4 linked regions of the Homo sapiens genome follow. The protein of the gene in region 1 purifies or fractionates together with the protein of each later gene. This does not show direct contact. Each region holds a gene or a part of one and is shown on either strand. Other genes may lie near its edges.

Region 1 (2,201 bases):
TTGGTGACAATACTAAAAATAAAGTAATTGTGCATAATATTAAAATTCTAATGATATAAATTACATTAACACCTCTTCAAGTACTTAGAAAATTGACTGATGACCACAAATTAGAAAAAATCTTTTTAACACAGTCAAAAGGAAGTTCTCTAGAGAGGGGATAAATATACTTTGAAGAAAATATTTCATAGTAATTTTTCTTAGGTTGTTCTTAAAGTAGTGATTTCTGCAATGTAAGAAGGTAAATTTCTCAAGTTAAAAAAGAAAAGAAAAAAACATTGGTGAGACGGGTCTCACCTCAAAAATGTCTTGGGCCCTTTAGGTGGCACTGGCTGTGGAAGTGGTTTGCTGCTGTTGAACTCAATATCGTGGACTGGAGAATTAGGAATGGGATCCAGGCGGTTAGGATGTCCATTGCCCACTCCACCAGATTCCAGAGCACTTAGATTGGGAACACTCACAAACCTGTTTGTTGGTGATTTATCATTCTTCTTCTTTTGCTGCATTAAAAATAATACATGTGAGGATAGTCCCTGCATGAGGACAAATGAGAAAATAGGAATGGTAGAAGATAGAAATTTGGCATGGGAAAATTTTGGAAGCTTTATGTTAAATTAAAATGTTAATTAACCAGTGTTACCCAAACTGTGGTCTGGGAATCCTTGGAGGTATTTTTTATCTACATGGAATCCTCAAAGACAGACATGCTACCAGGGCAGAAAGAATGAGGAAGAAACATTTAGGAGTCATTCACGAGGAATGAGAGAGAAGGTAAAAAGAGTGCCAAGGGGTAAAGAATACCCTTTTGGGAAGAAAAGGGAAAAAGGATTAGGGGAGAGAGCAAGTCTTGCAGATAGAAGGTTAAATGGATTTAGGCTAAAATTAGGAGAAGGGGTAAAGTTAAACATAATTTTAAAAGAGAGTCCATGAAATTTAGCCATCTGTCAAAGGGAGGCAGTTCTTGCCTGGAAAAAAAAAAAGGAATGAGAAAATGCTTGGCAATGTAGTTTGAAACAAATTGCACATTTCTACTAAAGACCTAAAGCTGACTTAAGAGAAATAATCTGGTTTTAAATTCACTGTGACATCTATCTTTCTGAAGAGAGAAAGTTATATCTGCATAATTAAGTCTAATTTCCATATTACTTGGCAGTATCATTAATTGGCTCATATTTTTTAAACTTTAAAGGTTACAAAACAATAGTAATCAGCTGATTTTTTAATGTGTCTTTAAAATTAAGAGATAAAAAGACAAATTCCACTGCAGATTATCAAAATCTATCAGCTTGCAATTCACTAACTTTAGTCTCAAAGTATTTTATTCACATCTCTAGAATCAATGATCATCATCTTGCTATGAGAAATAAAAATTAACATGTTACTAGATATTTAGAATATTCTCATATTTTACTAATTAGATGTATACCAATTAAATTTGTAAGCTTTTTAGGGAAATAACTCGAGTTTGGGAAAAAATGCAATTAATATACAAGATGGAACTTTTATTTTTATTTATCTCATTGTCTAAACATTTTCCTCTGTCATATTCTGTGACTTGTAGAGTCTCTGATGAAAATCCTATTTTAGCATAACCAGAAAAAGAAAATAATAATAATACCTTCCTCAGAACTATTTGTGAAAACTAAAGTCACTATTAGGAGTCAAAAGTAGTTTGAAAGTTCTTACAAAGATGTATCTTTTGCATTTTCTTATTCTAGTCACCAGAGGGCATAATTAAACCTACTTAAGGTTTCTATTTTAAGAAATCAAAAGAATACTGGTAAAGTTCTACAGTAATCATTTTGCAGCTAAAAAATTTAATTCCAATAAAATAAATAAATGAAAAGGAGTATTTTTAGTATATCTTTTTTTCCACAAACCTCATAATCTTGCTTTATAATTAAAATCTTATTTCACCCTAAATTATGAATTAAAAAACTAAAACTAATTATAATTATTCATTCACCAATTATTTACTCAGAGCTTTCTATCTGCCAGGCAGTATTTTAGACTCTGAGATACAGCTACATGCCACTACAGTCATTCTATTTTAGAAAACATTCAAGTTTAAAGTTTGGAACACTTTAACTTGTAAAGGAAGGATAGATTCAGTGTTCTTAATAGAGAAGTTTTACGAGCTGTGAAAGGAAAGGAAAATTTCTGGGTAAAGTCCTAATAAAAATTAGGCATGACGTGAAACT
Region 2 (3,500 bases), on another chromosome or scaffold:
CTGAGCAACAGAGTGAGACTCCATCTCAAAAAAACAAAACAGGCTGGGCGCAGTGGCTCATGCCTGTAATTCCAGCACTTTGGGAGGCTGAGGCGGGCAGATCACGAGGTCAGGAATTCAAGACTAGCCTGACCAACATGGTGAAACCCCGTCTCTACTAAAAATACAAAAATTAGCCAGGTGTGGTGGTGCATGCCTGTAATCCCAGCTACTTAGGAGGCTGAGGCAGGAGAATCACTTGAACCCGGGAGGCAGAGGTTGCAGTGAGCCGAGATCATGCCACTGCACTCCAGCTTGGGCAACAGAGCAAGACTCCGTCTCAAAAAAAACAAAACAAACAAACAACACACAAAACAAAACAAAAAAACCACCTCATTTCTATAGGAAAATCCATTCTATGTCCTCAAAAATTAACTACTCATGAGTTGAGGGCCAATACTCTTTTATGAGCCATTTTAAAAATAAAAATATTTTCAATTAACATGTGGCTGTGTGGCAAACATTCAAGTAACATTAATTCTATATTTTATACCTAAAACTTCATTCCTAACTTAATCTTAGCTTTCCTACGCATTTTATCTTTGTCCTATTTTCATTTATATAATTTCCCTTTTATGCTGTCTTGTATTGTATGTACAACAGACTGATAAATAACTTGGACCTATTGTATTGAGGACATGCCAAACATAAGCCATCTAGCCTCAAAGCTTTCTAGGATCACTTCTGAAAAGAAGTTTCTTAAGTTGCCCAAGCTAAAGTTCCTATTTAAATTCCTATATGTCCCTAATCAATCCTTAAATGGTACTCACAGAAGTCATGTCACTTGCACTTTCTTGTTTGTTCAACTCCCGGAGTCCATCCCCTTGCTCTCCTCTGGGCTCAATAATATTATTCATATGTGCCTTGATAGCTGAATTCTGCAATGTCAAATCAGCAATTCGTGTCATTATGTCCTTTCTTTGTATTAATGACTCATTTGTTCTCAGCTGCTGCCCATCTCCCAGTACTGGGAGCTCTTCTGAGAATGTGGGGCTTCTTGACTGTTGAGTGTTGGAATGGGAATTGCAGAGGGGCTGTGAGAGGTTAACAAAAGGAGCCTGAGTTTTGTTCTCCAAATCTTCTCCCATGTGAGAGACTCTCCATCTCTGAGTGAAGAGACGATTCTCTTCACTTGAATTCTGAATGTCTGTATCAATAGGTAAGGTCTTCTCTTCCCAATTTTGTTCCTTCTCAATTATTTCCACAGTTGGAGGAAGTCGTGGAGCAGGACGAGTTTGAACAGTCCTTCTCAATACTATAGATAAGAATTTAAAAATAACAAATATGTATTATTTTCCCATAGATTGGCACTATACTCATTTCATTAGCCCACCATGGTAGTTAGAAAAGTATTTCAGTAGAAGGGTTTGGCTTCTGAATGCTTAAACTATTTTCAGCAGAGAACACACCAGCAATGCCGCCCCTCGTAATCAAGTACAGAGACTTTTTACATTCCTTAAAGCATTTGTTAGTACCCTTGTGAAAAACCATCTGTCAAGTTCACATTTTAACGCATATATTAACTCACATCTGGGAATCTTGGGGAATGAGGAAGTGGGTATAAGTACCCAATTTAAACAGCAGATAACCAGGAAAGGCCTCTCTGAGGAAGTAAAATTTTTAAATGATTACATATGTAATAGGAACTGAGCAAAGGACATTACAGGCAGAAAATGACTGCCTTTAGGGGTATGTACTGTGAAAGCTGTCAGAATCAAAATGGAGTCATTTGGCCGGGCGCGGTGGCTCACTCCTATAATACCCGCACTTTGCAAGGCCAAGGTCGGCAGATCACCTCAGGTCAGGAGTTCGAGATCAGCCTGGCCAACATAGTGAAACTCAGTCTATACTAATAATACATATTTTAAAAACTAGCCAGCCATGATGGTGCACGGCTGTAATCCCAGCTACTCAGGAGGCTGAGGCAGGAGAATAGCTTGAACCCAGGAGGCAGAGGTTGCAGTGAGCTGAGATTGCACCATTGCACTCCAGCCTGGGTGACAAGAGCGAAACTCCATCTCAAAGGAAAAAAAAAAAAATCAGACATTTGTGTCAGAGCGCAAGTGACTTTATCAGAGTCACTTTATCAGACACAAGTGACTGATAAGTGGAGCCTTAAAAAGCCAGGAAGGAAGGGTTCTCAGGCATGTATGACTGATAACAAGAACTGTTCAAGAGACTTCAAAAACCAGAACCTTGCACAAAGGACACCACAATCTTACACAAAAAATAATTCTGCGAGGACATTTGCCCAACATCTGCCTATCCAACCTTAGACTGATGCCACCCTTGTTATTGATCCTTGTAGCCAAGGATAGTTATCTCAAAACAACTTAAATAATCCTCCTCATTTCCCCTTTAAAAACTCTTGTCTTCCTTTACTTCCCTGAATATGCCCACCATATTCCCATTGCAATTCTCAATCTCAAATAAATATCAGTTTCTTTTAGAGAGCCTTTCTCTGGGTTAAATTGACAGTACTTTTTAAAAAACCATATACAAATATGAATTCGAATGAACGCTTTAAAATAAAGGATGAATGGGAGATCAGAAAATGAAATGAAACTGCACACCAATACACACAGACACACACACCCACTACTCGTTCAAGAAGCATGGCTGTAAAGAAAAGCAGAAATAAATCAATAGCTAGAGGAAAATATTTATGATGGGAAATTCTACAGCAATAGTGTCCAATATGGCAGCCTCTAGCTATATGTGGCTATTCAAATTTAAGTTAATTAAAATTAAATAAAATTTAAAATTCAGTTTCTCAGTCACATAAGCCACATATCAGGTGCTCACTAGCCCCATGCAGCCAGTGGCCACCATTCTGGATGGAGCAGACACAGAACATTTTCATCAACCCAGAAAATTCTATTAGACAAAGCTATCCTAAAAGAGAACTGAATGCTGATGAAGGGCCCTATGTATCACCCATTTTCATCTGCATATTCTGTTTAACTGAATAATTCTTTATATGTGAGTATTCCAAACAATGCTTGAAAAATATAATAAAACATCACCAATTCAAATACATATTCACAAGCAGCTGTCTGCACATTATAAAATAAATGGGCAGTTATTTTAAATACAAACTTGCTGAAGATATTAACAAAATGTTGTCTATAGCAATCCCTGACAAATTTGCTTTAACAAGCATTTAGTACGGTTGTGATCAGAGTAAACATATTTATTGTAACTGAAGCCCTCTGAAGAGGAAATACTGAATCATACAATGATAGAGCTGGAGGGAACATTAAAGATAAAGAAATATCTTCTCATTTCATAGATGGAAAAACTTAGGTCTAGAAAAGGTAAACTATCTGAGCCTCATGCCTCACAGCTAGTCAACAATAAACGGGCCAAGATACCAGCACGTCTGACTCTCAGCCTGGCACTGTCACCATTGCACCATACTGATCTGACAAATGCTACATCTGCATTATAAATACCAAAAC
Region 3 (3,500 bases), on another chromosome or scaffold:
ATTAGACCCCAATCCCAGAGACAATTATGCTGACCTTTCTCTTCTGGCTCTGACCCATAACCTACATTTTTTTTTTCAACCCAAGCAATGCTAATAAGTAGAAAAATTCATAGGTTCAGCAGAGGACTTTGAACCTTTTTGCTGTGCCTTGTTCTAAAGTGATCAGCAGGAACTGAGTTTTACTAATAGGAGAGAAGCAACACAGTTTCTTCTCTCTCTCCCCCATCTCTTCTGAATCCTTCTCATGAAATTAAAATACCAGAGGAGACAGCTGATCATTTCCACAGGCAGAAATGCAACTTCCTCCTTGCTAGAGAAGAAAAAATAGTTACTCCTAAACAAGATTGCTTTCTTATATGGAATAGTAATCTCAAAATAGGAATGTTGTTTAAGCACCAATTACAAAATAAAGAGGAAGAGTGAGCTGCTTCTCTACTCTGGTGTATATTTTGTAGCTGCAGGGTGGTATACAGAAATCTCTTGGACACAAGGGGAAAGGAAGGAAGCATGTCCACGGGGCACCTCCGAGACACCAAATTTCAACCTTTTTGAATTCCCTTTGTGCCCAGATGAAGAGATGAAATGACAAATATAACAATTTCTCAATAACTAAAATGTCACTCGCCATGCTGCTTAATAATTTTTAAAGCAAATATTATAATCTATGTTCCATCTCAGCAGCAGAACACCTAGTTACTCAGTTGATTTCCCTTATCCTATCACATTATTTGTATTCCCTCGCTCAGGTCTGTGCCAAATGAGTGCCTGTAGACACTCCCTCTTGTGGCCACGGCCCCTACTCAGCTGCTGCAGCCCCTCCCTGCTGCGGTCCTGGGTGATGGCCTGCTGACCATCTGCCTCCCCTGCTAGAAATCCAGGAAGGCGAGGGCTTGAGCTATATGCTCAGCGCTGAGCAAAGTGCCCAGCAGAGACAAGGCTCTAGATCATGTCTCACTGAATGCTTTCCAAAGCAGATTTACTCTGGAATCAGCAACATCAACCCTCTCAAAATCTCTTGCCTCTTTCAGTTATTTTATATGTTCCTGGGTACCATGACTAAAACCAAGAAACTGCTAACAGGGGTTTTGGGTATGATGTTTTTCCAACGTTTGGGAGGGACTAAGAGGTGGCTTTACTTGAGAAAATTCCTTTCAGATTTGAGGATTAAACACTTGGTCCAAGAAGAAAAGGACCTGGCTGTTGGCTGAGCCCTGGAACAAAGCACAAAGCTCCCACGGCTCTCTTCCCGTCTCCCTCCACCCGCAGGGAGGGAAGTGGGTAATCTGGAGGAGAAGAGGAAAAAGAGGAAGTGGGCCAGAGAAGAGAAGTCTGATGGCCAGTTTTCCTCCAGTGCTACGCTAACTCGGTGTCACAGCTTTTCCAAAGATTGAAATACGAAGTTTTTCTGTCCTAATTTCTTAAGACACAAAGGAAACAAGTAGATAGAAAAATAAATAATATTTAAATGTTACAATCATATTAAAGATATATGCTGGGAGTTAATTATTATTTCAATTTTTCACTGTGATTTCCCAAACTTTAAGGTTCCCAAGGAACAGTTTTTGCAGAAGAGTCTTGGGGAAAAGTCCAACTACTATGCCAGGCACTGAAGAGTAAATGAAAACACTTTTTAAGCAACTGGCCTGGGAAGCCTAAATGAGAAGCCTTTCCTTCCAACGTGTCCTTTCTCAGCACTGTCTTTACATGTTCACATGGGAATTACTTCAGAAATGTCATTAACAATATAATGACACCTATAACCCCCAACCCAAGATTTTGACTAATTTACACCTACAAGATGACTTCAGTGATACATGAAATAATTCACAGAGCACACGGACTGGTATTTAGTATGCGACCCTGCTGACTGTTAGTTCAAAAAAAGAACTTACTTGGGTGCTGATATGAGAGGGGCACAGCAGCTGCAGCAGCGTCCACATGAGACATATCCCCGGCAGGAGAAAGCCCGCCCATTTCCAACTGCCTTGGCATGTTCCCTGCAGCTGCATGAGGCACAATTGTCCCATGAGTCCTTAATAATAACACCAAGACAAAGAAGGGCAGTGCAGTGTGGGGGCAACTGACTGGAGCACGGGAACTGAAGCCAAAGTAACTGGGTGCGCCCTTTCCTAACAGGATTCTATGAAGTTCCCAACATAACCACTTGGCAACGTATTTGCTTGTCAGAGTGTTCTCGTAGTTGAAAGAATTAACTTTGTTTACAAAATGAGATTCGTTACCCAACAGGAAAATCAACCCAGTGACAGTGAAGAATTCAATTGGCTTGCTGATCATCATTTGAATTCTATTAAAATATCAATGATTTAACACAAAGACTTTAACAAATATTTACAAAATTTACCAAGCCCTCTCATTTAACTGTTCAAAATATTAACACTTTCAGATTTGAAGATGAAGTTTACAAGGCTAACCAATAGCTTATATGCAAATATAAAGATTTCTCAAGCTGGAAAGAACCTTAGAGATGATAGGCTCTACATGCTTATTTTACACTTACAAAGTGGCTACAAAGTAAGACAGTCTAAGGCAGGGCCATAGCCAGGACACCAGTTTCTGGACTCTTAATATTCTTTTATCTCTATTCTTTTACTAAAAATGAGGTTTTCTAAATCTGAGGCAATCAACTGAATCAGTATATTTAAAAAATAACATCCTTAGGCCGGGCGCAGTGGCTCATGCCTGTTATCCCAGCATTTTGGGAGGCCGATGCAGGCGGATCACTTGAGGTCAGGAGCTCAAGACCAGCCTGGCCAATATGGTGAAACCCCATCTCTACTAAAAATACAAAAAAACTAGCTGGGTGTGATGGCATGCACCTGTGGTTGGTCCCAGCTACTCGGGAGGCTGAGGCAGATGAATCACTTGGACCTGGGAGGAGGAGGGAGATTGCAGTGAGCCAAGATCGGACCACTGTACTCCAGCCTGGGCAACAGAGAGAGACTCCATCTCAAAAAAATAAAAATAAACATTCTTGTATTCCATCAAAGGAAAAAATAAATAAAAATCACTTATTTAAAATCTGATAAGTTAATAATTCATTTATAAGCTTAGCTCAAACTCTGAAATTATTAGTCATACTGAAATTTTTAAAAAGTAAACACACACATGAAAATCATCATGGTAGAAAAATGAGGTGATACATCTGTACTTGTGGTTGTATCACAAAATAATAATGACCCAATTTGTAACTGCTTTTCTTTTTAAACCAATGGATACGTTTCACCAAAACTAAGCTTTCTAGATTTTCAACATATAAAAACTGGTATTTATATTTGAACTTACATTCAAAAGATGATTCAAACTCCTCATTATCCTTAAAAGCTAGCTTGTCCACATCTGAAAATTCACTTTTGTCTTGAAGTTCAGTTTGTCTTCGATAAAGACTAGATTGGAAGGATAAAACTCGTGAAGTTTCAATAATGGAAAACCAAAGAGTACAAGGTGACAAAAAGCCTTTTGTGACTCAAGAAAAGGCTCTA
Region 4 (4,127 bases), on another chromosome or scaffold:
CTTGAGAGCTGGCTCCTGCCGGCGGCTTGGGCTCCTCTCTCCCATCCCTACCCCCTCCTTCCAGACCAAATCGCCCCATCTGAGTGGCTTTCTTGTCGCTTCCTATTTTATTTATTTTTCGAGACAGTCTTGCTCTGCTGCCCAGGCTGGAGTGCAGTGGCACGATCTCAGCTCACTGCACCCTCCTGCCTCAGCCTCCCGAGTAGTTGGGATTACAGGCGCACGCCACCAAGCTGGGCCATTTTTTTTTTTTTTTTTTTATTTTTAGTAGAGACCTTGTGATCTGCCCGCCTCAGCCTCCCAGAGTGCTGAGATTACAGGTGTGAGCCACCAGCGCTTGGCCTGTTTCCTATTTTAGAAGGATGCAATTCCAACCTCTGGCCAGGAGAACCTCCCCCTCCCTGCACACGGCCACCTGCTTTTCACTGAGGTCTCAGCTCAAACGCCACCTCCTGGAGGCCTGCCCTGACCACCCCCCATGCATTCACAGGAACCCTGCCTTCTCCTGTCCCCCAGCCCCTGTCTTGCCTTCATCAGACCATCCTTTGATGTCTCTATTTTTGTTGTTTGTTTTTTTTGAGACAGATTCTTCCTCTGTCACCCAGGCTGGAGTGCAGTGGCGAGATCTCGGTTCATTGCAACTTCCGCCTCCCGGGCTCAAGTAATTCTTCCACCTCAGCCTCCCTAGTAGCTGGGTTTACAGACATGCACTACCATGCCCGGCTAATTTTTGTATTTTTAGTAGAAATGGGGTTTCACCAGGTTGGCCAGGCTGCTCTTGAACTCCTGACCTCAGGTGATCTGCCCGCCTTGGCGTCCCAAAGTGCTGGGATTACAGGTGTGAGCCACCACGTCTGGCCATCTGATGTCTCCTTTAACTAGGACATCAGCTCCTAGAGGGCAGGGACTGATCTGTCGTCTACCACTGTCCCCATACCCGGGCAACACCTGGCACGTAGCATGATTTTAGTGAGCAGCTACTGAGTGTAAGGGGTAACGTACAAATAGTTGAGCTGTCTTGGGGCCCTGCCTGGGGCTCAGATTAAAAATCAGCTTAGTCGGCTGGGCGTGGTGGCTCACGCCTGTAATCCCAGTACTTTGGGAGGACGAGGCTGGCGGATCACCTGTGGTCGCCAGGTCCGAGACCAGCCTGACCAACATGGAGAAACCCTGTCTCTACTAAAAATACAAAATTAGCCGGGCATGGTAGCGCATGTCTGTAATCCCAGCTACTCCGGAGGCTGAGGCAGAAGAACTACTTGAGCCCAGGAGGTGGAGGTTGCAGTGAGCCGAGATCGCACCATCACACTCCAGCCTGGGCAACAAGAGCGAAACTCTGTCTCAAAAAAAAAAAAAAAAAAAAAATCAGCTCAGTTTTAGTAAGAGCTCGCCACGCAGGTGCCCTCACCACCTGCCAGGCCCTCTGCCATCTGGTTTTCCTACTGAACCCTCCCCGACCAGGTGTTTTCCAGATGGAGAAACAGGCCCTACCTGCCTTGCTCGGGGGTGTGCAGCCATTTCAGGGCACAGCTGGCCGCTGGGAGAACCAGGACTCAAACCTGGCTCTACGCCGGCACTCACCTCGTCGATCTCACACTGGACCACGGACTCCACGGAGGGGTGCTTCACCACCTCCCGCAGGACACCTCCATCTCCGCCCCCGATGATCAGCACCTGGGAGGAGGGGGCAGTCAAGGCAGGGGCCCTGGCAGGACTGGGAGCCCCCAGGCCCCTGAAGCAGACCCCCTGACCCCTCGGACCCACGGGCCTCATCTTTTTCTACCCTCGGAAACGCTTTCGTGCCGGTGTCCCCTTTCCTGGAAGTTCCTTCCAGGGCTGCCCTAGGATTCCGAGGCCGCGTCAGTGTCGGCCCCCACCCCTCCGCGGGACGCCCCTGGCCTCGCTAGCACTTTCTCTGACAACCATGCAGGCAGCATCTGGGAAGAGCCCGGAGCACACCTGGGGCCGCCCCTCGTCCGGCACTGTTCCAGGGGACACTGGGGTACCTTTCGCGGGTTGGGGTGGCTGCAGAGAGGCAGGTTGGCGATCATCTCCTGGTAGGAGAACTCGTCTCTCTCCGTGCACTGGATGACACCGTCCAACACCAGCACGTTGCCATAGGTCTTACTGCGGGCGGAGTGACAGTCGGGGACCTGGGTTCTCTGGGGTGGGGAAAACGTACCCCAAGCCGCCCTGGGTGAGGAGGGTCTCCCCATCCCGCCTAGGGGTCCCAGGGATGAGGAGCGATGGTGACACGTGGCGAGGAACGGCAGGCGGGCCGCCGGGTGGAGGCCGGGGTGGGACCCGGGGTCTCCTCGGGCTCTGACGTGTCCTGAGGGCTGACACGTGGAGCGGGGCGCAGACTCCGACTCCCCCACCCAAGAGGCCAGCCCGCAGTCCCAGCCCCAGCCCAGGGAGGCGGTGTGAGGGGTGGCGAGGGGGCCAGGGCAGGACGAGGTCCAGCCCGCTTGGGTCCCGGCGTGGAGAGGCCCGTGAGGCGGGCAGCAGGCGGCCCGGGCTGAGCCTAGGGGGCAGGCGCCTGCGGGCAGCGGCGGTACCTGCGGAAGACGAGGATGTCCTGGTAGCGCGAGCGCCGGTGGTGGAGCAGCTGCTCCACCTGCAGTGACAGGGCCTGGCCGGGCCACAGGCTGCAGGTCTCGCGGAACCAGCCCTCGCGGATGGCGGCGGGGCCGGAGGCGGCGGGGCCGTCGGGGCCGGGCTCCATGGCGGGCGGGCGGGCGGCGCGGGGCGCGGGCCCGGGACTGCAGGCCGCGCGGCGCCGCAGCACAACGGGACCAGCTCCGCCCGCCGCCCGCGCCGCAACCTAACCCGGGCGCGGGGCGGGGCCTGCCGGCGGGGGCGGAGCCCGCGCTCGCCAATGGCAAAGCGGCCTCGCCTGGCGCTCATTGGCCACCGGCTCGCAGAGCGGCGCAGAGTGGCTGTGGCGCGCCGTCCGTCGGCGGCAGCAGGGTAGTGCGGCCCGCTCCAGGGGCCACGTGGGGCCCGGCCGGGGCCGGGCGGCCGGGTCGGGTTCCGGGGCGGGCTGGGCCGGCGGAAGGGGTCCGGGTCCTTCCTCCGCCCCAAGCAGCCGGGGCGGTGCACCACCGGCCCCCGCTTCCTTCTCGGGGTTGGGAGGCACCGAGGGCCTCGAGGGGCTGCGGGACTCGGGCTTGGTGTGGAGGGCAAGAGCGCTGCGACGTGCGGACTGGAGAGTCAGCCTTTGGGCTGGAGACACGGGAGCGGGTGGCTACAGTGGTTTACGTTGTTGCACGGGGCGAGTAGAACGTATCCTTCTTTGCGTCCAAAATCTGGTTCCTTGTTGGATTTGAACAGATTATGTGGCTCGTCGGGGCGAACCGAGGGTTTTTATTTACTTGGAAAGAATCATCACAGCCCGCGAATTCACAAGCTGGATTTAGCCATTTTCCCTTAGATTCTGCGCCATGAGCCTATAGGCTGTTGAATACGAGAGAAGTGCTTTTCTAAACGAGTTTCTAAATTTACCAGCAGTGTCCAGGAAGAGGCCCAGAACATACATATTCAGCACCAGAAAAGACTGGCACGCAATTTTTCTTGACAAACTGGGTCTTGCTCTTTGAAGGGTGGGTGGGAATGTGCTGTTTTTATGAGAATGTCAAAGAACTTCTCAGAATCACATTAAGCATGCTAATTACCAAATATTAAATGCTAATTGTTCCACACGCAGTTCGAATGCCAAGGAAGGAAGATGAAACTAGTATAAGCTACTCTTGACATTATGTCAGGGATGGTTTTGACACGTTTTGCAGCCTCCACCTGGAGGTGGGGAACGTTTCCTGTGTCGTCCCCAGAGCAGAGTAACAGCGTTGTTTATGGGTGAGAGCAAGCCTCAAGCCTAGGCAACAATGTGCCTTGCTTGCTTTTAAGCTCCTTCTAAAGGGGAGGTAAACCAAGACCGCTAAAGAATTGCTAGGTGCCTGGGCGTGATGGTTCACCCCGGTAATCCCAGCACTGTGGGAGGCGGAGGCGGAGGCGGGCGGATCACGAGGTCAAGAGATCAAGACGATCCTGGCCAACATGGTGAAACCCCGTCTGTACTAAAAATACAAAAATTAGCTGGGCATGGTAGTGCGCGCCTGCAGTCCCAG

The links.
Region 2: the proteins of FAM184A (region 1) and SPICE1 purify together in Homo sapiens (affinity purification with mass spectrometry, with the first as the bait; one large-scale study listed by BioGRID). This does not show direct contact.
Region 3: the proteins of FAM184A (region 1) and OFD1 purify together in Homo sapiens (affinity purification with mass spectrometry, with the first as the bait; one large-scale study listed by BioGRID). This does not show direct contact.
Region 4: the proteins of FAM184A (region 1) and SRM purify together in Homo sapiens (affinity purification with mass spectrometry, with the first as the bait; one large-scale study listed by BioGRID). This does not show direct contact.

The regions. Positions count from the first base shown.
Region 1 is NC_000006.12:118,961,464-118,963,664, forward strand, and holds part of FAM184A (protein FAM184A), read right to left. Parts: intron 501-2,201; coding exon 298-500; intron 1-297.
Region 2 is NC_000003.12:113,452,657-113,456,156, forward strand, and holds part of SPICE1 (spindle and centriole-associated protein 1), read right to left. Parts: intron 1,295-3,500; coding exon 810-1,294; intron 1-809.
Region 3 is NC_000023.11:13,762,248-13,765,747, reverse strand, and holds part of OFD1 (centriole and centriolar satellite protein OFD1), read right to left. Parts: intron 3,405-3,500; coding exon 3,304-3,404; intron 2,033-3,303; coding exon of another isoform or gene 2,031-2,032; exon of another isoform or gene 2,004-2,030; coding exon 1,893-2,003; exon of another isoform or gene 1,889-1,892; intron 1-1,888. UniProt on the Homo sapiens protein: Component of the centrioles controlling mother and daughter centrioles length. Recruits to the centriole IFT88 and centriole distal appendage-specific proteins including CEP164. Involved in the biogenesis of the cilium, a centriole-associated function.
Region 4 is NC_000001.11:11,057,219-11,061,345, forward strand, and holds the start of SRM (spermidine synthase), read right to left. Parts: upstream 2,801-4,127; 5' UTR 2,726-2,800; coding exon 2,559-2,725; intron 2,128-2,558; coding exon 2,007-2,127; intron 1,675-2,006; coding exon 1,582-1,674; intron 1-1,581. UniProt on the Homo sapiens protein: Catalyzes the production of spermidine from putrescine and decarboxylated S-adenosylmethionine (dcSAM). Has a strong preference for putrescine as substrate, and has very low activity towards 1,3-diaminopropane. Has extremely low activity towards spermidine.